Linked DNA regions of Homo sapiens: region 1 is linked to region 2. The links come from fine-mapping of genetic effects on gene expression. A gene starts in region 2. The other region holds a variant in brackets. All regions are shown on one strand. Distances are between the middles of the regions.

Region 1 (11,866 bases), 200 kb before region 2:
GATGGGGGTCTTGCTGTGTTGCCCAGGGCGGTCTCAAACTGCTGGGTTACTGATATTCTCACCTTGGCCTTTAGACTTGTAGGGATTACAGGCGTGAGCCACTGTGCCCTGCCTGGGTTATGCTATTTAATAGAATAAGAACGTGTTCGGCCCGGCGTGGTGGCTCACGCCTGTAATCCCAGCACTTTGGGAAGCCGAGGTGGGTGGATCAGCTGAGGTCAGGAGCTCGAGACCAGCCTGACCAACATGGAGAAACCCTGTCTCTACTAAAAATGCAAAATTAGCCAGGTGTGGTGGTGCATGCCTGTAATCCCAGCTACTTGGGCCTGGTAATTGAACCCCTGAGACCTGAGGATGAGAAAGCTTGCCTCAGTTCTTCCCCAGGTGATCAGCCCAGGGGTAAGGAAGAAGAGGCTGGAAAAGAGGACCCATGAGAAGGGCCCCCTCCTGGAGTTTGAGGCCCACTCCCTCCTGCCCCAGCCTCTCCTCTGTCCCACTCCCTGCTCTGCCCCACTCCTGTAGCCATGGCAATGGGGGGCTGCATTTGAGTACAGGCCCCAGCAGCAGCCCTAAGCCAAAAGTGGGCAGGCTCACCTGCAGGGGATCAGAGTAACATGGCAGGAAGTAAGGGTGAAAGCCGCCCTGGAACCGTGCCTCTCTGCCCCATCACATCACTCGTGTGCACTCCTCCCTCACCTTACTCAGGCAGCAGCATCATGAGTTCAATGGGAGTGATGTCCTGCTCCCTCTGCTGCCTCTTTTTAGTTTTGGGCTACCATAACACTTTCCCTTCCCCAGCCCTGCCAACCTGGTGGGCCATTGGGCTTCCCTCTCCCAGGGTCCTGGGGACAGACCTGTCCTGTATCATACTCACAGAGAGACCCTTTTTTTTTTCCAGGGCTTGAGGATCATCCAGGTTTCATGAGTTAAATGCAGATCTGAATCATACCAAGCTGAGATTGGGGTACACACTCTCCTCTACTGAAAAGTAGTGAGGGATTCCAACTTCGTGAGAGGGAGAGTGGGGCAGAACCAGGTGGAGTTTTTGTTGTTGTTGTTGAGATAGAGCCTCACTCTGTCACCTAGGCTGGGGTGCAGTGGCACAATCTTGGCTCACTGCAAACTCCGCCCCACCCTGGGTTCAAACAGTTCCCATGTCTCAGCCTCCTGAGTAGCTGAGATTATAGGCATGTGCCACCACCCCCAGCTAATTTTTGTATTTTTTTTAGAGACGGGGTTTTACCATGTTGGCAAGGCTGGTCTCCAATTCCTGACCTCAAGTGATCCACCCACCTGGGCCTCACAAAGTGCTGGGATTACGGGCATGACCACCATGCCCAGCCCCTTCAAGTGGGTGTTGAGGCTTCAGTACAATACTAGTTTCCGTGGCTACTGCAACAAATTACCACACAGTAACTGTCAGTGCTTTTTATAAGGTGAAACAGATTATCTTGTGGGGCTTTTGTTGTGATGGTGATTTGTTAGATTAGTTTAAAGACAGTAATGTGCAGGTGTTGAAAATTATAAAAACAATCTTCACATTTTCATATTTTTTTTGAGACAAAGTTTTGCACTTGTTCAGGCTGGAGTTGCAATCTCAGCTCACCACAACGTCCGCCTCCCAGATTCAAGAGATTCTCCTGCCTCAGCCTCCCAAGTTGCTGGGACTACAGGGGTGCGTCCCACGCCCAGGTAATTTTTGTACTTCAGTAGAGACGGGGTTTCACCATGTTGGCCAGGATGGTCTTAATCTCTTGACATTGTGATCTGCCTGCCTCGGACTCCCAAAGTGCTGGGATTACAGGTGTGAGCCACCCCTCAGCCCACATTGTATAACTTTAAAGCAGTATTAATGGTAATTGCCTTAGGGAAAGATACTTTTGTTGTGATATATAAGTATTATATTCAAGTATATTGTACAGCAAAGGATGTTAAACCTAAGTCAGCATTAATGTATTATATGGTACACTTAAAACTTTAGTACAAATATTCGTGTTTAGCAAATTGACCTTAACACATAATGATAGCAAAAAAATGGAGCTATTCTGATGATAGACCATTGGTTATGTCTGAATTTAATACTCTCCATGCTCTTGACTGTTTCATTTTTTTCATTGAAACAGAGTCTTGCTCTGTCACCCAGGCTGGAGTGCAGTGGTGCAATCATAGCTCACTGCAACCTTCACCACTCAGGTTCAAGTGATCCTCCCATCACAGCCTCCCTAGTGGCTGGGACTACAAGTGATTACCACCATGCGTGGCTAATTTTTGTATTTTTAGTAGAGATGGGGTTTTACCATGTTGGCCAGGCTGGTCTCAAACTCCTGACCTCAGGTGATTCACCTGCCTCGGCCTCCCAAAGTGTTTGGATTACAGGCATGAGCCACTGCGCCTGGGTGCCTCTTGACTTTTTATAGCTGTTATATTATTTTAATTTTAAGTAAATGTTAGCTGAAATGATACAGTTCAGGAGAATCTTCTTCTGTTACTGAAAAAAATCATATTTATAAGTCTAATAAGGTTATACACTAATGTATATGTTTGGAAAATATTACCTTTTCTGGCCAGGCATGGTGGCTCATGCCTGTAATCCCAGCACTTTGGGAGGCTGAGGTGGATGGATCACCAGAGGTCAGAAGTTCAAGACCAGCCTGACCAATATGGTGAAACCCCGTCTCTACAAAAATACAAATATTAGTTGGGCATGGTGGCTGGTGCCTGTAGTCCCAGCTACTTGGGAGGCTGAGACGGGAGAATTGCTTGGACCTGGCAGGTCGAGGTTGCAGTGAGCCAAGATCCTGCCACTGCATTCCATCCTGGGTGATAGGGTGAGGCTCCATCTCAAAAAAAAAAAAAAATTAAAAGAAAATATTACCTCTTCCATTTAGTGCTATATGTATTAAATAATATTAGCTGGTATGTTTTTCTGGCTTTATAATGTGGTTCAGATTTCTGTAGAAATTCTGGCTGTATCTACATTGCCTTAAAGTAATGGGATATTTCTTTTGTTTTTTTTCTTCAGCTGGAGTTTTGCTCTTGTTGCCCATGCTGGAGTGCAATGGTGTGATCCTGGCTCACTGCAATCTCTGCCTCCCAGGTTCCAGCGATTCTCCTAGCTCAGCCTCCTGAGTAGCTGGGATGACAGGCACCTGCCACAACACCTGGCTAATTTTTGTATGTTTAGTAGAGACAGGGTTTCACCATATTGGCCAGGCTGGTCTTGAACTCCTGACTTCATGATCTGTCTGCCTCAGCCTTCCAAAGTGTTGGGATTACAGGAGTGAGCCACTGCACCTGGCACCTGTGACCAATATTATTTCTAAGATCTAGAATGCATTTATTACTGAAACAATGCTGACATACACTGCACCTAAAAAGGAAGAACTAGACATTCATTAAAGCTAGGAAAAAGCAGAATTCAGTGTGCTCAAGAACTGCTCCCATGGACAGGTACAATGGCTCATGCCTGTACTCCCAGCACTTTGGGAGGCTGAGGCGGGAGTATTCCTTGAGGCTGAGTTCAAGATCAGCCTGGGCAACACAGCAAGACCCCATATCTTTTTTATTTTTTAGACATGGTCTCACCTTGTCATCCAGGTTGGCGTGCAGTGGTATGATCTTGACTCACTACAGTCTGCAGGCCTCCTAGGCTCAAGTGATCCTCCCACCTCAGCCTCCCTAGTAGGAGGGACAACAGGTGTGTGTCACCACATCTTGCTAACCATCTCTATTAAAAAAAAAAGTGGCCAAGCACAGTGGTTCACACCTGTAATCCCAGCACTTTCGGAGGCTGAGGTGGGAGGACCGCCTGAGGTCGAGAGTTTGAGACTAGCCTGGCTAACATGGTAAAACCCCGTCTCCAGTAAAAATACAAAAATTAGATGTGTGTGGTGGCAGGCGCCTGTAGTCTCAGCTACTCGGGAGGCTGAGGCAGGAGAATCACTTGAACACAGGAGGTGGAGGTTGCATGAGCCGAGATCGTGCCACCGCACTGCAGCCTCGGCAACAGAGTGAGACTTTCTCTCCAAAAATGACTAAACTAGGAGTCACACAGCCTGAGAGCAGGCTTCTACTGATCAGCTCTGGGCAAATCACCTATCTGTGCCTGTATTTATTCATCCACAATCCCCAAAAGCTCAGAGGAAGTTGAGGGAAAGTGTAAATCTCTAGATAAGGGCAGGACATGTCTGCTGCAGCCTTGAATCTGGGACTCCCCGTGGGGTGAGGGGCCCCCTGAGGCCATCTGTCCTTTGCACTCCCAGGGGCATTAGCAGTATGGTCAGGTGCTGCATCCACAAGCCCACGAGCCAGGAGCATGCTGTGAAGGTCATCGACGTCACCAGTGGAAGCAGCTTCACCCCCGAGGAGGTGCAGGAGCTGCAAGAAGCCACACTGAAGGAGGTTGACATCCTGCACAAGGTCTCAGGGCACCTCAACATCAGTGAGTGAGGGTCCCAAGCTCCACGGTGGGGTGACCCCTGTGATTCTGCCCTGACATGACAGCCCAAGCCAGGGAATGTGGCCCCACCACACAGCCAGTTAGAACCACCCAGGCTCAAGGCTCCCAGCTGTAGCCTCACTGCTTTGACAGAAGGGGTCCCAGGCAGGGATGGTTGCAGGTGAGGGGATGGGGGTTTGATGTCCCTGGGCTGAATGAGCCAGGCGTGCTGGTGCATGCCTGTAATCCCAGCCACTCAGAAGGCTGAGGCAGGAGCATCACTGGAGCCCAGTAGTTTGAGGCTGCAGTGAGCTATGATTGCACTATTGCACTCCAGTGTGGGTGAGACCGTGAGACCTTGTCTCTAAAAATAATAACAATAATAATAATAAAGTTGCTTGAGGCTGAGTTCAAGATCAGCCTGGGCAACATAGTGAGACCCCATATCTTTTTTATTTTTTAGACACGGTCTCACCCTGTCATCCATGTCAGCATGCAGTGGTATGATCTTGACTCACTACACTCTCTGCCTCCTAGGCTCAAGTGATCTTCCCACCTCAGCCTCCCTAGTAGGAGGGACAACAGGTGTGTGCCACCACATCTTGCTAACCATCTCTACTAAAAAAAAAAAAAAAGTGGCCAAGCACAGTGGCTCACACCTGTAATCCTGGGCCTGCCCACACCCCGGGTTGACATCCTTTGAGCACCCTCCTGATTCCCGTGTCAGCTTTTGAAGTTAGCTGACAGCAGCCTCGGTCCCTGACCCCCGTGCCCCAGCTGCCCCTGCCCGGGCTCCCCTGCCACTTGAGATGAGCTAGCCATTTCCATTTCAGTACAGCTGAGGGACACTTATGAGACCAACAGTTTCTTCTTCCTGGGAGACTGAGGTGGGCAGATCACCTGAGGTCAGGAGTTCAACACCAGCCTGGCCAACATGGCGAAACCCTGTCTTTACTAAAAATACAAAAAATTAGCTGGGCATGGTTGCAGGCGCCTATAATTCCAGCTACTTGGGAGACTGAGGCAGGAGAATCGCTTGAACCTGGGAGGTGGAGGTTGCAGAGAGCCGAGATTGCACCACTGCACTCAAGCCTGGGGCATACTTTAGTCCCAGCTACTCGGGAGGGTAGTGTGTGAGGATAGCTTGAGCCCAGGAGGTTGAGGCAGCAGTAGCGGCAGTAAGCTATGATTGTTGCACTGCACTGCAGCCTGGGTAACAGAGCAAGACCCCGATCTCTACAAAGAAGC[C/CT]TTTTTTTTTTTTTTTATGAGCTGGAGTCTTGCCATGTCTCCCAGGTTGGAGTGCAGTGACGCGATCTCTGCTCACTGCAACCTCTGCCTTCCAGGTTCAAGCAAATCTGCCTCAGCCTCTGAAGCAGCTGGGACTACAAGCATGTGCCAGCCACCATGTCCAGCTAATTTTTGTATTTTTAGTAGAGATAGGGTTTCACCATGTTGGCCAGGCTGGGCTCAAAATCCTGGCCTCAAGTGATCTGTCTGCCTCAGCCTCCCACAGTGCTGGGATTATAGGTGTGAGGCACCATGCCTGGCCTCAATTCACAAACGTTTATTTGGAACATTCACTGTAGGCCAGTGTGGTGCCAGGAGATGTAAGGGTGAGTAAGAAACAGTTCCAGGCCCCAAGAACAACCCCTGGGTCAGGAGGGCTGACAGCTTCTTTGTGTTCCACTCTCAGAGCCACCCAGAGTTCCCTTGCTGAGGATCTGAGCATGACCCGGGATGAGGCACTGCCGGACTCTCATTCCGCACAGGACTTCCATGACAATTATTAGCCCAACGAGATCCTGGGCAGGTAAGGCCCAAGCTTTCCCCATGAAGTGCTGTCCTAGGCTCTAGCAGGCCCTGTAGGCTATAGCCACCTCTGCAGCACACCAAGTACTGACCCCACTTTCATTCCCAAAGTGCTGTCCACTTGAAGAAACCCTTGGTTTGGGGTCCTGCCCTCCTGAAGCCAGGACAGATAAGAGAAACCACTCCCAGCAAAAAGTTCCCAGGGGTAGGTGCAACAGCTCATGCCGGTACTCCCAGCACTTTGGGAGGCTGAGGCAGGAGGATTGCTTGAGGCTGAGTTCAAGATCAGCCTAGGCAACATAGCAAGACCCCATATCTTTTCTATTTTTTAAACAGGGTCTCACCCTGTCATCCAGGTTGACATGCATTGGTATGATCTTGACTCACTACAGTCTCTGCCTCCTAGGCTCAAGTGATCCTCCCACCTCAGCCTCCCTAGTAGGAGGGACAACAGGTTTGTGCCACCACATCTGGCTAAACATCTCTATTTTGAAAAAAAAAAAAAAAAAAAAAAAGCAGCCAAGCACAGTGGCTCACACCTGTAATCCCAGCACTTGGGAGGCTGAGGCAGGAGGACCACCTGAGGTCAAGAGTTTGAGACCAGCCTGGCTAACATAGTGAAACCCCATCTCCAATAAAAATACAAAAATTAGATGTCTGTGATGGCAGGCACCTGTAGCCCCAGCTATTTGGGAGGCTGAGGCAGGAGAATCAGTTGAACCCAGGAGGTGGAGGTTGCAGTGAGCCGAGATTGTGAGACTTTCTCTCCAAAAAAAAAAAGAGTACTAATCTAGGAGTCACACGGCCTGAGAGCAGGCTTGTTACTCATCAGCTCTGGGTAGATCACCTGTCTGTGCCTCTATTTATTCATCCATCATCCCCAAAGCTCAGAGGACGATGGGGTAAATTGTAATTCTTATGGCCGCTGGCCCATGTATGCGCACTCCAGGAAGACCCAGAAGCCCCGCCTTCACTTCCGATTGGCTGCGTATGAGAGTCGGTCCTCTGTGACGCCATAGGGGCGCGCCTTCATTGACGTCTCAGAGGCGCCCATTCGAAAAGTCCTATGAGCTGGTCTTTCGCGACGTCACAGGGGCGGTATAGTGCCTGGAGATGGTCAGTCTTCTGACAGTGGAGCCTGGTAACCGCCACCTCCTCTCCAGGTCCTCTGTATTGCTGGCAGCAGAAAGGTAGTTGATAAACTCCCACCCAGCACAGTGTGTATGTCCATCAAAAATAGGAAACTGTGTCCGGTGGCGGCCGAAGCCGGAGGATCCTTTCAGGCCAAGGGCAGCCTGTTAACCTGGCGCGACCCCATCTCTTTAGTCTCACCTCAGCTTCCCAGCTACTTGAACTCCCAAGGTTCAAGGCTCCAATGAGCTGTGATCCCACCACAGCACTCCAGCCTTCGAGACTGAGGTAACCCCTGTCTAAAAAAGTAAAAAAGGAAACTACCCAAGTGTGCAACAGGGAGGGACTGCTTAAGGAAAACATGAGGCTGGTTGGGCCCAGTTATCCCAGCACTTTGGGAGGCCGAGGCGGGAGGATGGCTTGGGCTCGGGAGTTCGAGACCCGCCTGGGCAGCAGGATGAAACCCCGTCCCTACAAAAGGTACAAAAATTAGCTGGGCGTGGTGCACGCCTAGCCTAATTTTTGTATTTTTTGTAGAGATGGGGGTCTTGCTATGTTGCCCAGGCCGGTTTCAAACTCCTGGGTTCACTGATATTCTCACTTTGGCCTTCAGACTTGCAGGGATTACAGGCATGAGCCACCGTGCCCCACCTGGGTTATGCTATTTAATAAAGTAAGAAAGTGTTTGGCCCTGCATGGTGGCTCACGCCTGTAATCTCAGCACAGTGGGAGGCCAAGGTGGGTGGATCACCTGAGGTCAGGAGTTCGAGACTAGCCTGGCCAACATGGAGAAACTCAGTCTCTACAAAAAATAACAAAAATTAGCCGGGTGTGGTGGCACATGCCTGTAGTCCCAGGTGCTCGGGAGGCTGATACTGGAGAATCACTTGAACTGGGAAGTGGAGGTTGCCGTGAGCCGAGATCACACCAAGCACCCCAGCCTGGGTGACACATCGAGACTCTAAAGTTTGAGACCAGCCCAGGCAATGTAGTGAAACCCTTTCTGTACAAAAAACAAAACAAAACAAAACAAAAAGCCATGTGTAACTGTTCACCTGTGGCCGCAGCTACTTAGGAGGCTAAGGCAGGAGGATCACTTGCGGCCAGGAGCTCAAGGCTGCAGTGAGCTATAATCATCCTGCTGCTCTCCATCCTGAGCAATAGAATGAAACCATTTCTCTAGATAGCTAGCTAGCTAGATAATTGATACGTAGTTTTCTTTTCTTTTTTTTTTTTTTTTTGAGACAGAGTCTTGTTCTGTCACATAGGATGGGATGCAGTCGTGCGATCTTGGCTCACCTGCTCACTGCAACCTCTGCCTTCTGGGTTCAAGCAATTCTCCTGCCTGTCTGAGTAGCCGGGAATTACAGGCACACGCCACCATGCCTGGCTAATTTTTTATATTTTTAGTAGAGATGGGGTTTCACTGTGTTGGTCAGGCTGGTCTTGAACTCCTGACCTCGTCATCCACCCGCCTCAGCCTCCCAAAGTGCTGGGATTACAGGCGTGAGCCACGGCGCCCAGCTGATTATGTAGTTTTCTATCAAATTTTTTTCCTAGATTTGAACATGTTTTTCTAAAGTAGCATTCAACACATCAGCATTTTACAGTGTTATTAGTTGTTAATATGATTTTGTTTTTCTGAAATACAGTATCCTTTACAAAAAGTTTTGTCTTTCAAAGCACATAGATAGGTCCTCAAATGAATTTGTCTGATGTTGATTACCTTGGTACCATTTTGTCCACTTGATTGAAACAGTTAGTTGGTAATTTCAGGTCACTATTGGCCTTAGAGGAAGAGCCCAAAGGCAACAAGCAAGGGCACTGGTGTCCAGTTGCCTTCTAGAAGCATTTTCACCTTCCCTTAAGGTTTCCCTTGATGAATATAGAAGTACTGTATGTAGAATTGACCCAGTGCTGCCCTGGCAACTTTGTAGATTAGGCCAAATTTACATTTCTTACCTTTATGAGAGGCACCCTGGTAGGCTAGTGGAGTTACACACGAAGTCTGATCTCAGCCGCACCGTCCAGAAATGCAACATGGTCGAATTGAATAACATTCTCTGAGCCAGTTTCTTTAGCTGTAAAATAAGAATAACAAGTATACTCATCTAAAAAGACAGCTTATTGTATCTGAGTGGTCTTCTATTTTCTACGAAACTGTCTTTAACACAGTAATTATTTTCATTGCCATACCACATTTTTTGTTTTATTTATTTATTTTGAGATGGAATCTGGTTTTGTTTTTGTTTTTGTTTGTGACGGAGTCTCACTGTTGTCACTTAGGCTGGAGTGCAGTAGCATGATCTCGGCTCATTGCAACCACTGCCTCCCAGGTTCAGGTGATTCTCCTGTCTCAGCCTCCTGAGATGCTGGGATTACAGGTGGCCACCATCACACCTGGCTAATTTATTTATTTATTTATTTATTTTAGTAGAGATGGGATTACATCATGTTGCCCGGGCTGGTCTCAAACTCCTGACCTCAAGTGATCCACCCACCTCGGCCTCCCAAAGTGCTGGGATTATAGGCATGAGCCACTGAGCCCAGCTCATTTTTAGAAAAGGATTGCTTGGCCAGTCTCAGTGGCTCGCACCTGTAATCCCAGCACTTTGGAAGGCAGAGGTGGGTGGATCAGCTGAGGTCAGGAGCTCCAGACCAGCCTGACCAACATGGAGAAACCCTGACTCTACTAAAAATGCAAAATTAGCCAGGTGTGGTGGTGCATGCCTGTAATCCCAGCTACTTGGGCCCAGTAATTGAACCCCTCAGACCTGAGGATGAGAAAGCTTGCCTCAGTTCTTCCCCAGGTGATCAGCCCAGGGGTAAGGAAGAAGAGGCCGGAAAAGAGGACCTATGAGAAGGGCCCCCTCCTGGAGTTTGAGGCCCACTCCCTCCTGCCCCAGCCTCTCCTCTGTCTAGGACTCCTCCCTGCTCTGCCCCACTCATGGAGCCATGGCCATGGGGGGGCTGCGTTTGAGTACAGGCCCCAGCAGCAGCCCTAAGCCAAAAGTGGGCAGGCTCACCTGCAGGGGATCAGAGTAACATGGCAGGAAGTAAGGGTGAAAGCCACCCTGGAACCGTGCCTCTCTGCCCCCTCATGTCACTCGGGTGCACTCCTCCCTCACCTCACTTAGGCAGCGGCATGAGTTCAATGGGAGTGATGTCCTGCTCCCTCTGCTGCCTCTTTTTAGTCTTGGGGCTACCATAACACTTTCCCTTCCCCAGCCCTGCCAACCTGGTGGGCCATTGGGCTTCCCTCTCCCAGGGTCCTGGGGACAGACCTGTCCTGTATCATACTCACAGAGAGACCCTTTTTTTTCTCCAGGGCTTGAGGATCAGCCAGATGTCATGAGTTAAATGCAGATCTGAATCATACCAAGCTGAGATTGGGGTACACACTCTCCTCTACTGAAAAGTAGTGACGGATTCCAACTTGGTGAGAGGGAGAGTGGGGCAGAACCAGACCAGACAAGGAGTGGTCACCTGGAAAAAGCCTGCCATCAAAGGCCTTGGTGAGTGCTGGGTGCGGTGGCTCACTCCTCAGCAGTTTGGGAGGCTGAGATAGGTGGATCACTTGAGGTGAGGAGGTTGAGTCCAGCCTGGGCAACATGGCAAAACCCCATCTCTGCTACAAATACAAAAATCAGCTAGACATGCTGTGCTCCTGTAATCCCAGCTACTCGGGAGGCTGAGGCAGGAGAATTGCTTGAACTGGGGAGGCAGAGGTCGAAGCGAGCTGAGATTGTGCCACTGCATTGCAGTCTGGGAGACGGAGTGAAACTGTGTCCCTCCATCAGAAAAAAAAAAAAAAGAAAATGGCCTTGGCAGAAGGACCGGCCTGGCAGTGCCTTCCCTTGAGTTTCTCCTGGGTAGGCCTCTGCCATGAGGAGGTGCTTCCTTCTTCCTCTCCATGGCCCACAGCAAAAGACTGTGTGCTTCTAAGGGGTTGGGTGGGGGACTATTGAAAGAACTGGAAACCTTCAGGTGGGGTTTTGTGTTGTTTTGTTTTGTTTTGTTTTCTTATTGTCGACATGGAGCCCCACTCTATCACCCAGGCTGGGGTGCAGTGGCACAATCTTGGCTCACTGCAACCTCCGCCCCACCCTGGGTTCAAACAGTTCCCATGTCTCAGCCTCCTATGTAGCTGAGATTATAGGCATGTGTTACCACCCCCAGCTAATTTTTGTAATTTTTAGAGACGAGGTTTCACCATGTTGGAAGGCTGGTCTTGAATTTCTGACCTCAAGTGATCCACCCACCTGAGCCTCACAAAGTGCTGGGATTACAGGCATGAGCCACCATGCCCAGCCCCTTCAGGTGGGTGTTGAGGCTTCAGTACAATACTAGTTTCCCGTGGCTACTGCAACAAATTACCACACACTAAATGTCAGTGCTTTTTATAAGGTGAAACAAATTATCTTGTGGGGCTTTTGTTGTGATGGTGATTTATTAGATTTTTTAGTTTAAAGACAGTAATGCTCAGGT
Region 2 (11,866 bases):
CACAGAAGAAAGCATTGTAGAACAAACCTACGCGCCAGCTGAATGTGTAAGCCAGGCCATAGACATCAATGAACCAATAGGCAATTTAAAGAAACTGCTAGAACCAAGACTACAGTGTTCTTTGGATGCTCATGAAATTTGTCTGCAAGATATCCACCTGGATCCAGAACGAAGTTTATTTGACCAAGGAGTAAAAACAGATGGAACTGTACAGCTTAGTGTACAGGTAATTTCTTATCAAGGAATTGAACCAAAGTTAAACATCCTTGAAATTGTTAAACCTGCGGACACTGTTGAGGTTGTTATTGATCCAGATGCCCACCATGCTGAATCAGAAGCACATCTTGTTGAAGAAGCTCAAGTGATAACTCTTGATGGCACAAAACACATCACAACCATTTCAGATGAAACTTCAGAACAAGTGACAAGATGGGCTGCTGCACTGGAAGGCTATAGGAAAGAACAAGAACGCCTTGGGATACCCTATGATCCCATACAGTGGTCCACAGACCAAGTCCTGCATTGGGTGGTTTGGGTAATGAAGGAATTCAGCATGACCGATATAGACCTCACCACACTCAACATTTCGGGGAGAGAATTATGTAGTCTCAACCAAGAAGATTTTTTTCAGCGGGTTCCTCAGGGAGAAATTCTCTGGAGTCATCTGGAACTTCTCCGAAAATATGTATTGGCAAGTCAAGAACAACAGATGAATGAAATAGTTACAATTGATCAACCTGTGCAAATTATTCCAGCATCAGTGCAATCTGCTACACCTACTACCATTAAAGTTATAAATAGTAGTGTGAAGGCAGCCAAAGTACAAAGAGCGCCGAGGATTTCAGAAGATAGAAGCTCACCTGGGAACAGAACAGGAAACAATGGCCAAATCCAACTATGACAGTTTTTGCTAGAACTTCTTACTGATAAGGACGCTCGAGACTGTATTTCTTGGGTTGGTGATAAAGGTGAATTTAAGCTAAATCAGCCTGAACTGGTTGCACAAAAATGGGGACAGCGTAAAAATAAGCCTACGATGAACTATGAGAAACTCAGTCGTGCATTAAGATATTATTATGATGGGGACATGATTTGTAAAGTTCAAGGCAAGAGATTTGTGTACAAGTTTGTCTGTGACTTGAAGACTCTTACTGGATACAGTGCAGCGGAGTTGAACCGTTTGGTCACAGAATGTGAACAGAAGAAACTTGCAAAGATGCAGCTCCATGGAATTGCCCAGCCAGTCACAGCAGTAGCTCTGGCTACTGCTTCTCTGCAAACGGAAAAGGATAATTGAGCCCCAGGACATTCGGGGACTCCAAAGTCTTTCTTAAAATGTTTAGAGCAAGTATAGCTCTTACCTTTATTACTGAATTTGAATCTTCTTTTATTTCTAGGCTGTACAGTCTGATGCATGATTTTTTTATAAATATTTCATACTCTTGTGAATTTGGATCTTTTTATTTTGAGCATATATTTTAGAATATGTGTGTGTTAAAGGATCTCCACAATGTCTGCGGTGTGAAGGCAGGTTCATTGTGGAATAGTTTGTCAACAGTCAGGAAAGCTAAACTGGTCAGTATTAATGTGTAGCCCTACCAAAAATAGCCAGTAGTATCTGAAAATAAAAAATAAATGAAGTATCTCTAGGAAACAGTCTGGCTTAACTATATTTGAAAATATAACTGTTTCCCCTCTCTGCTGCTTTAGATGTTGCTTTACATAGAACCAGAAAATGGAATTTCTCAGATAAAGCATGTGTGCCTGTTTCATCTAATCAAGCAGAGCTAAAATGTTCATACCAAATAAATTTATAATAATAAATTACTAAACTAAGAGTATCAGGTTATTTATATATTTGCAAGCAAAGGACAGTAAGAAGTTGGCTGGCAAAAGAGCAGTGCTGAAGGAGGAGATCCAGGTTTAAATCTGGCTTATTAACTCAAGCCAATTTTAAGGATTTTCTGTATAGATTATTCATGTCAGACCAAGAATTTAAATTATTTTGAGAGAGGCATTTAATTCTAATAAACCAGCTGTTACAAAAATTATAAAATGATCTCTGTTTTTCCTGTCAGAGATTTAAAAAACTGAAAAGGTATACCTCAACCCAAAAATAAAGGTTTGGTTTGGTTTGTTATGGCTTCCTTTTTAAAAAAATTACCCTGTAGTGCCAGTTTATTATGCAAAGCAGCTTATATTCCTTTGTTTCTGATAAAATGAAGACTTTAAATCAGTCAGCAGTACTTTACCTTTCAAGGCATTAGTAAATTACTTGCAAATAGTTTTAAAAGGAAAATTCGACCTCTGTTATAGGCAGTCTTCTCTTTAAGACAATACTTTTCCACTTATTTTTTTTCCTTTTCCATATTATATATGTGTATTCATATATCTATATACATATTCAGTTGATCATTTTATAAACATATATGAAGGCATGAAGATATACAGAAGAAAAATTATTAAACAACTCATTTTAAGATTCAAATTAAGTAATTCCTGCATATATGACATTCCTTACATAAGCGAACACTAAACAAAAATGGCTAGAAATGTCTTTTTCTTTCTTTTCTCTTTTTGTTGTTTGTTTTAAGGTATTAAGCACGAATTATTACATGAGACTGGCAGATAGCTATTAATCCTCTTACAGATTTGAGAAAGTTGATTCTCAAATATTTATGCACCTTTTCCTTCATTGTTTTCTTTAAATATGTCCCCTTAAAAAGCTTCTTAAGAGCTCAGTTAATGCTTTTGACTTAACTAGGAGAAAAAGACATGATAATACAGGCAAGATGGCATTGTTAGCAATTCTGGTAGTGGTTTGGAATGAATCCTAAGAGGCAGGTATCTTAAGGACAAGGAAGAGAAGAGAGAGAGGAGGAATCTTTGATCTCTTTCTCTGGTAATCTTAACGCATAATTTTACTACAACATGTTCTCAATTCATTTATATTATTATATTAAGCTCTTTCTGCAGTTGATATCTGGGCAGAGTAAGATTTGTATTTCCATTTTTACTTTTTTGAAAGAGAATATATGGACAGATTATTAGTACAATTTGGGCACTGTGGTTGTAAGAATATCTGAGTAAAATAACAATATGAAATAATAAACAGAAGCTCTAGCGTCAGGTAACAAATAGACAGCAAGAAAGGTTTTGCACCATCCTCTTACGGCCTAGGGAGTTGACAAGTTGCTTGTAGTTTTAAAAAAATAATAAAGTATACCCTTCTGGTGTATCATCAAGAGCTTAAGAATCTTGGCTTTCATATTTAAAATGCTTTTGGGGAGACATATATTAAAATTTTAGCCAAGATGATAGACATGTCTCAATTATATATGTGTGTGTATGTTTTTAAAGCTAGAAACATTACTTTTAGATTCCTAGAATGAAAACTTTTTTCTCATCTATGCAATTCCCATATGGTTTTTTTAAAATCATATTTTATTCATTTTCTCCCTTTAGCAATTTTCATTTTATTTCTCATAATTTGAACAGAGACAGTTCTCCTACATGATCAGATGCTTTTTTTTTCTTCTTGCCATCATTTATGCATGACATAGGTAAAGTAATATGACTAATTTCTCCAGTTGATTCAAGAAACTCATTACTTTGCCTCAAATTATATGTAAAATATTTGTTTTACTTAGGTTACAGTTATCAGAAAGCCAGGTAGTTTTTTTCTTCTATTAAAATATAACATTGTGAAAGAAAATAAAATTTATTCTATTCATTCTTTGCTTTGTTTTTATAAATGAATTTTTCATAGAATTTACAGTATATTCAAAGGAAGAAAGATAAAATTATTGGTCATCATTTGTACCTTAGAAGTACAAGAATTTAAGTAAAAGAAATGTTCATTTTTGTTTTAAAATTTGTTTTCCATGTGAAGTTTTTATTGAGCCAACTTTCATACATATCTCGCTAGCCTAAAGTCTAAATATTTGTGTTGGCATCAGAAAAACAAATTAGGCAGAATTGCTATGTGTGGTTGATCTTCAGGTAAATTGACTGATCACATTTATTTTTGTATCAGTCTATGTCATTTAATTAGGAAAAACTGTTTAGTTGTTTTCTCCCCTGATTAATGGTGATACTCAAGTATGATACAAAAAGAACTGTACCACCAAATATTTTTGTGAGGTCTGCTGTTTTCCATATTCATTTTATGCTACTGCCTTTAAGAAAGAACCAGTGTATCCTTGAAATAGCACAAAAATGTTTTAAAATTCATAATTGCAAAACAAATCTGTGACTAACTTAATGTCTTCAGATCTAAAGGGTGTAAAAATATTGATACTTCAATATTTCACTTGCTGCCAGGAAAAACAAAATTCTTAATCTTTTGTAATTGGGAGGAGGACTTTTGCATACATTTTTACTCTTTAAATAACGACAATGACACTTATACTGTCATAATAACAATTATGTATTTCTTTGTGGTTTTAATTTTTTTTGTAATTTTACATAAAAGTTATTTTCTATTTTTACGCAGATAAAAAATATTTGTGCATAAAATGTAAAAATAGTAAAATGAGAAAAATAAAACTATTATACAGTAAAAACAAAAAACAGAAAACAAAAAACAAAAAAAAACTGAGGTCCTGGCTTTCAGTAATACCGGATTAGCTTGTTGAATTAACACAGATTATAATGATGACACCTGCATAATATATTACCTATTGTTATAGAAACACAGCTGCATAATATAGATATGACCTATGTGTCAGTAAGAACTGAATGAGGTTTTCAGCTGTGCCCACTGCAGGGTAGACAGGTATTGAGGTTTGAATCCAGCCCAATTAACACCTTTTGTAAAAAATAACACCGCTGTTAAAGGTACACAACAGAAATGAGAGTCTATATAATGATTCTTTACAGTTTTAGTACACAACTTTAAAATTCATGATACGTGTGAAGAAACACAAAAATAGAATCCATACGCAATTTAAAAAGCAGGCAGTAGGAGTGATCCTAAGATATTTAAGATGTTGTAATTCAGGATGTTTAAAGGCAGCTATTATAAATCTGTTCATGGGGGTAAAGGAAAATATTCTAACAATGAAGAGATGTGGAACCTCAGCAAAGACATGGAAATTACGAAATAATAGGAAGATAAGGAAATTTGAAAAATACTTTTGAGCTTATTCAAAGATTAGAAACAGAAGACAGAGCAATAGAAGTTGTCCATTCTGAATAAAAGAGTGAAAAAGCTTTAAGAAAATGAAGTCTTAGAGACCTGTAGAGTGATTGAGTCCAAGTTGGACAGGGAACAGAAAAATTAAATGAGGTACAAAGTTAATCACCAACTAATGGCTGAAAACTTCCAAAAATTGGTCAACCACCCCCCCCCGCCCAAGTTTTATACCCAACATGTCAACAAACCCCTCCAAAAAATACAAATAAAACCCTACCAAGGCCATATTGTGATTTAGGAGACTGGCAGAGGAGAGCTTCCTGTTGACTTGCTGTGATTTCTAATTTTAACTACTTAGAAGAATAAAAAATAGGGTCTCCTTAGAGTTTCTTTTTTTTTTTTTCTTGGAGAAAGTCTGACTTAGGCACAGATGACTGACAGTTTTTAAAGGTAGATGAGTTTCCAGACTTCTCTTAAATTTCCAGTGTGTTAACGTTGAAAATTATTTGAACTTGTTGCTTCCAAATCCTGCAGTAATACTGATGCTCCAGAAAGGCGTCCCATGGAGATTCTGCTCTTGTGCATCCATCCTGCACGGAGCTGAGGCTGTGCCTCCTCTAGTTTCATTAGCGTGTAGTTGTGGGGTACTTCGAGTTAATCTGAAAAACTCAGTGTTAAAATGGATTCAGGCCGGGCGCAGTGGCTCACGCCTGCAATCCCAGCATTTTGGGTGGCCAAGGCGGGCAGATCACTTGAGTTCAGGAGTTCGAGACCAGCCTGGCCCACATGGTGAAACCCAATCTCTACTAAAAAATGCAAAAATTAGCCGGGCGTGGTGGCGGTTGTCTGTAATTTCATCTACTCGGGAGGCTGAGGCAGGAGAATCGCTTGAACCCGGGAAGTGGAGGTTGCAGTGAGCCCAGATCGAGTCACAGCATTCCAGCCTGGGCTACAAAGCAAGACTGCGTGTCAGAAAAAGAAAAGAAAAATGGATTCAAAGATTTATCACTGTTAAGTTCCACCAGCAAATTATTAAATGTGGTTCCAAAGGGATATTTAAAAAGGGAAATTAAAATTGTTTCCAAGAAAGCCCTATTCACAGCAGAAACGTAGACACTGTACCTGACCTCACCACACAAAGTTCCCTCATGTGTTGGGAGGGACCAAGGGGCTCTCTGGTCCTGCACCTGCGTTAATTATGGCCGGGAGGTCCGCAGTAGGACCCTAAGGGCTAGGAACCAGCCTGGGTCAGGGGCAGAGAAGTGGTGGATGTGGCTCCCAAAGTGGCTTAGGGGTTCCCTTCCCTGTGGCTGTTTCCTGACTGGATGCAGCAGGGTCAGGCCTTTCAGTGTGACGTTTTCTACTCTTTATTAGAGTGGCAGGAGCGTCCCTGTGCGAGGCCTGACCCAGGTGTGGGCCTTGCAGCCAGCTCGGGGTCCAAGGGGCACTCCTGCGGTGCTGCAAAGGAGGATTTGTGACAACCCAGAGGATGGAGGAAACGGCGGCTTTGAAAAGGCAAGTGCCAAGTTATCAGGGATCGCTTATATCCATTTCTGGCAGTGAACTGACAATTTCAGACACTCAGGAGGGAGCTTCCCGCGTGGGATCACAAAAAGTCCGAGAAGTGTCAGACATCTGGCCATTAACCCCATTCCTACGCAGGGACTACACTGCCGCTTGTCCGAAGGGGCGTGTCAGGGGCGGAGCGAGGATGAGGGGCGGTGCCAATAAAAGAGGCGGGGGAGAAGGGGCGGTGCTGAGGGGAGAGGCCGGGCCAAGGGAAGAAGCGTGCGAGAAAGGGTGGGGCGAGTCCAGCTACAGGAAGAGTAGCGTTACTATGGCAACCCTGACAGGTTTGTGAGCAGCCCCCGGTCCCCTGCCGCTCCGTGAGAAATCAAACTTCAGGCACTGACGAAGCATGAAGCCAGCATCTTAGGAAGAGGTAGTGACATAATTACAAGGTAGGACCAACCGCCCTGGTCCCACTGTCGCCTGGCAGGCAGGAGAGGTTTGGGAACAGCCAGGCTCCCCTTGACATGGCAGTACTGCTCTGGACGCGGGGAGGTGTGGATTAGTGGGTGGGAGCTACACCTGGCATACTGGGAGTTGTCGTCTTTGATTAGCTTCCAGTTTTTTAATTGCAGGGCGACCGGATTACAATCACAGCCAGCATGAACATGGGGCGGCGCACAGTCCTGAAGAGGAAAGCCGGGCTGTGTTGACCTCGCTGTGCATGCTGGGAGTTGTAGTCTCTTCACTGCTCCCGCCCGTTGTTTCAGGCACTTCGGGACTACAATCCCAGCATGACCCGGGCTCGGGGACGGGGCGCAGTTCTCGTGGGAGGAGCGGGGCGGTGAGAGCCTGGCTAGGCAGGCTGGAAACAGTAGCTCTTAACGGTCCCCCGCCCGTTGGTGGCAAGGCGGCTGGACTGGAATCCCAGCAGGCGACATGCGAGGAGGCGGGCAGCCCAGGAGGGTTGGACACGGCAATGTGGACCTCGCCGCTTCCACAACGATGCTGGCTACTGATCGCGTGCACTTCCTTGCCAAAGAAAGTGAGTCCGGAGAGGGACAGGAGGGGCAGGTCCGGGCTGGGCAGTGAGGAGGGCGTGACGCCGCGATGTACACCTCGCCCTTGTCAAACTGGGACGGGTGTAGTCCTCACCCCACTTCCCGCTGCTCAGCTGGGTTCCCTCTCCCACCTGTACCCAGGGTCTTTCCTGGCCATCGCGCCTCCTGCAGCCCAGGGAGCCACCGGCTTTCCTAAGCTGCTGTGGGAACTGGCCTGAGGTCCAGGCGCTGTCCATTGTGCCGCTGCCCTCTTTTCTCTCCAGCCAGAGCGCAGTTCCGCCGCTGTGGGGAGAAATCCGCCGCCTGGCCCGCCAGTGCACAAGTTCAGAGCTTTGCACGGGGTGACATGGGCTGTGGCTTCGTGAAAATGTCACCCTCACCAGCGACTTTTTCGCGGATGTGGATATTGAGGGGGCAGGGAGGGCCATTATTGGCTTACCCAGGAGATGCTAAAAGCAGAGGAGAAAATTTCAGTTCCCAGGCGTGTGTCTCTGGTGCGCCATTTTTCACCAACCCATTTGGTAGAAAGTCCCCCAAATAGCTACCTAAAGATTAGGATGGTTTAGGTATTTTACACGTGATATCATTGGCCTCATCTCAACAAATGTCTGACTGGCCAGTGTCTCAAACACAGATGGCAGCCTGATCCTCAGGAACAGGTGGTGCTCCAGCTTTGTGGGAGCGACTTTCAAGGTGTGGACCATTTGGGGAGTCTTTGTAACTCCTCAGGCTTCACATCTTTGCTTTGAATGGAAAGCTCATCACCCCCCGGCACTCCCGGAGGTACCTTTACTCTCTCGGGCTGATCTGTTGACCTTTTCTGTCTAGACAATGGGAACTTCTGGGATCACTTCTAGTTTCGTGTAATTGATGTCCCTAATTTCCATATGTCCCCAGGGACAGTCCCTTTGATTCTGGAATGGCGCCAGCTTTTATGCTTTTTATGTCTAATCCGTAAAAACCAAGGTGTTCATCTACATGAAAATAAGACCTTGTTCGTATCGCACGTTCCAACAGGCTTCATTTGTGATTCCTGAATGTGGATTACCATAAAAAAAAACCCTAAAAACCCTGGTCATGGATATTAGACACTGTTATTGTACTTTGTGAAGAATTTACTCCTTCAGGATTAATTGCACACGGGCTCATCAGCACCTTTGTCAATAAAGGAACAAGAACCATGTGGTGTCTATGGATGTGGTGAGATGAGGAAGAGCCACAGCGCAGCGGTTCTTCTCTTGTTTTCAATAGAGTCTGTGGGGTCAAGTACCTGCGTTTCTCCCCCATCCCCCAATATTCTCATTCCACTCCTGAGTGTTCCGTCTTTAGGTGGAAGTTTCTAAATACACTTGTCCGCAAGTGTTGGTGGGGATGTTGTAACGTGAGGGCATCCATCATCCATCACCTTAAAGATAAATGGAGAGGATTTTGTGGTCTGTGTTCAAGAGGCACTGCTGTTGGGTGTGTTGCTGCCAAAACACGTGATCTCAGCTGTCCCCAGCAGCTGTCTTAGAAGATTGGTCCTGATGTAGCCACAGCTGCTGTTCACAGAGCCAGGAGCTCTTTGCAGTTTGGTGTATTCTGCTGAGATTTATGGCTCCGACCCTCCTCTGCTCTGCCATTCCTGGTAGTAACTGCTCAGCTGCCTGGTTTGCTCCAGTGTCCTGGGACCCTGTTATGTAACTGCATTTCAGAGGGTCTTAAGAGATTCTACCCTCACTACACCAGTCACTCTACACTGGCCGTGCACTTAGCTTCTTGGAGCCCTGCTTGTGTCCTCTTAAGTGGAGCTGTGAAGAGTTCTAGTTAGGGATAGATCTCGTTCTTATGCGCTTCAGGCTTATTAGAAAGCTGATCATCTCGTCTTTGGACACATGGACATTGTTACTTTTGTGTATTTTGAAGTCCGATGCTGTTTTTTTTTTAAATAAAAAAAAAATGTGGACCCTAGCAGTAACAGTCACTTTTAAATATCTTTGTGAATTTAACTCTGGCAACAACTCGATGATGTTGGCATGCAATCCCCATTTTATAGGTGTGGAAACTGACACTCAGAGAGGTAGAGTAGCTTTATTTACTTCACACAAGCTTTTGATGAATTTCAAGTCTCAACCTAGAAGTCTTCCTCTAGGGCATGATCATGGCATATTCTACTTTGTTTCTCTGCCAGCATCCCAAAGGGGTCCACATCTCATTAGGACTCCATTTTCTTAATAACAGGAAATTTGCAGAAACAGGCCTTTTTGGGGGAGAGCACTCACTGGGACTTGGCCTTCCCTGTCCTCCACCTTCCCCTTGGCAGAGCATAGGTGATTTGAGGGAGCTGGAGCAGCGGTACCTTACCTGGAACACTTGTTATGTAAAGCCCTCACCTGGAACGCTTGTTGTTATGTAAAGATAACTACCTCTCACTTTTTTAGGTGTGATTTTTTTTCTTCTAATTATTCCTCTGGGCTTTCTCTTCTAGATTTGTGCTGTGCACTAACATGCAATACAAATACTGATGAAAATAAAACTATTGCCCTCCTACCAAATGGTAACAACGCTTACATTTTTCCTTTTTCTAATTATAAAAGAAATGCATACTGTTTTAAGAATATCAGATCATAGAGATCTTTATGTAGTGAAAATCTCCCATGTCTTCCTCTTTGTTCCAAACTCACTCTCTTCTTAGAAGGAATTATTATAGCTTGGTGTTTATTTTTCTGGATGTTTTCTATAAATTTATAAATACATATAAAGTTGGCCAGTTGCAGTGGCTCTCGCCTGTAATCCCAACACTTTGGGAAGCTGAGTGGGGATAATCCGTTGAGCTCAGGAAGTTGAGGCTGTGGTGAGTTGTGATTATGCCATTGCACTGCCATCTGGGCGACAGAGTGAGACCCTGCCTCCAAAAAATTTTTTTAAAAAAAGGAGATACATACCTGTACAGTTTTTGAACACATTATATCATACTATATTGTGTTTTATTTTGCTATTTCACAAGCAATATATCATTTACACTATTCCATATCAGTGCATGAGATTCTATTTTTTTTTTGAGATGGAATCTTGCTCTGTCACCCAGGCTGGAGTGCAATAGCACGATTTCGGCTCACTGCAACCTCCACCTCCTGGATTCAAGTGATTCTCCTGCCTCAGCCTCCCAAGTAGCTGGGATTACAGGCATGTGCCACCAGGCCTGGCTAATTTTTGTATTTTTAGTAGAGACAGGGTTTCACCATGTTGGTCAGGCTATCTCGAACTCTTGACGTCAAGTGATCCTCTCGTCTCGGCCTCCCATAGTGTTGAGATTACAGGCGTGAGCCACAGCACCTGGCCTCTATTTTTAATGTCTTAAATATATTCCAAAGAATGGGTATACAAGACTTGTTTCACTGTTTATTCTTTGATAGAAACTTAGATTATTTCTAGTTTCATCATTGTTAAAAAATGCAGTGATAAGATTCTTGTACATAATTTATTACACTGATAACTAACTGTTCAGTTTATCTTGCTGCCTCTTAGTCGGAGAATATGTCATGAGTTTAATATTTATTTTATGATTTGATTCATAGAGAAATTAATGTTATGACTGGATGAAGACAATTGTGAAGAAACTGCACTTTGAGGTTGTCTATCTCTGTATTCTGATGGAAAAGCGTGGAGTTTAGAAGCACTGCTCACTCCTTCAGTTTCTAACAAGTCAGTATTCTCATAGCAATTTAAATTTAAATGTTCAAATTACCTCTCCTTCCCTGGTTCAGAATAAGTATGTTGTTTTTCTGTTTGTAAAATTTCTGACTCTGGGTTTTTTCAGTTGGGCTTTAGAGAGGATAACTCCCATATCGCTGTTGTATCTATTTCTCTTCAGCATCTGGCTGCATGTGATAAAGATCATAGAATTAGACCTGGTCCTGTATGTATTTTGGGACAAAAATTCAAAGTAATCAACTCAAGATAGGAGTCTACAACTTTAATTCTTAATAAAAGATTTCCTTTGATTTCCCCACATCTTTATGATTCCTAGTGTAGCAGGACAAGCCACAGACAAAACCCCTCAGACACCAAGTTAAAGAAGGAAGTGGTTTATTTGGCTGGGAGCATCGGCAAGACTCCTGTCTCAAGAGCCGAGCTCCCCGAGTGAGCAATTCCTGTCCCTTTTAAGGGCTCACAACTC

Direction of the effects. Positions count from the first base shown, and alleles are read on the strand shown. Sizes are in standard deviations (SD) of each study's normalised expression.
As copies of CT replace C in region 1, the expression in CD4 T cells of the gene that starts at base 6,551 in region 2 goes down (large effect, 1.5 SD a copy in BLUEPRINT).

The links. PIP is the estimated chance that this variant, and not a neighbour inherited with it, causes the effect.
Region 1: its variant is fine-mapped to the expression of LINC02848 in CD4 T cells (BLUEPRINT, PIP 0.95).

The regions. Positions count from the first base shown.
Region 1 is chr7:63,695,130-63,706,995 of GRCh38, forward strand. LOC105375313 (a long non-coding RNA gene) reads left to right here and starts at 4,077. Exons shown (of 3, transcript XR_927567.2): 1 at 4,077-4,441; 2 at 6,132-6,248. The variant C/CT (reference allele first, on the strand shown) is at 5,687.
Region 2 is chr7:63,893,348-63,905,213 of GRCh38, forward strand. LINC02848 (long intergenic non-protein coding RNA 2848) reads left to right here and starts at 6,551. Exons shown (of 7, transcript NR_186803.1): 1 at 6,551-6,652; 2 at 6,991-7,098; 3 at 7,282-7,691; 4 at 10,175-10,243; 5 at 11,265-11,391. It also overlaps the pseudogene GABPAP.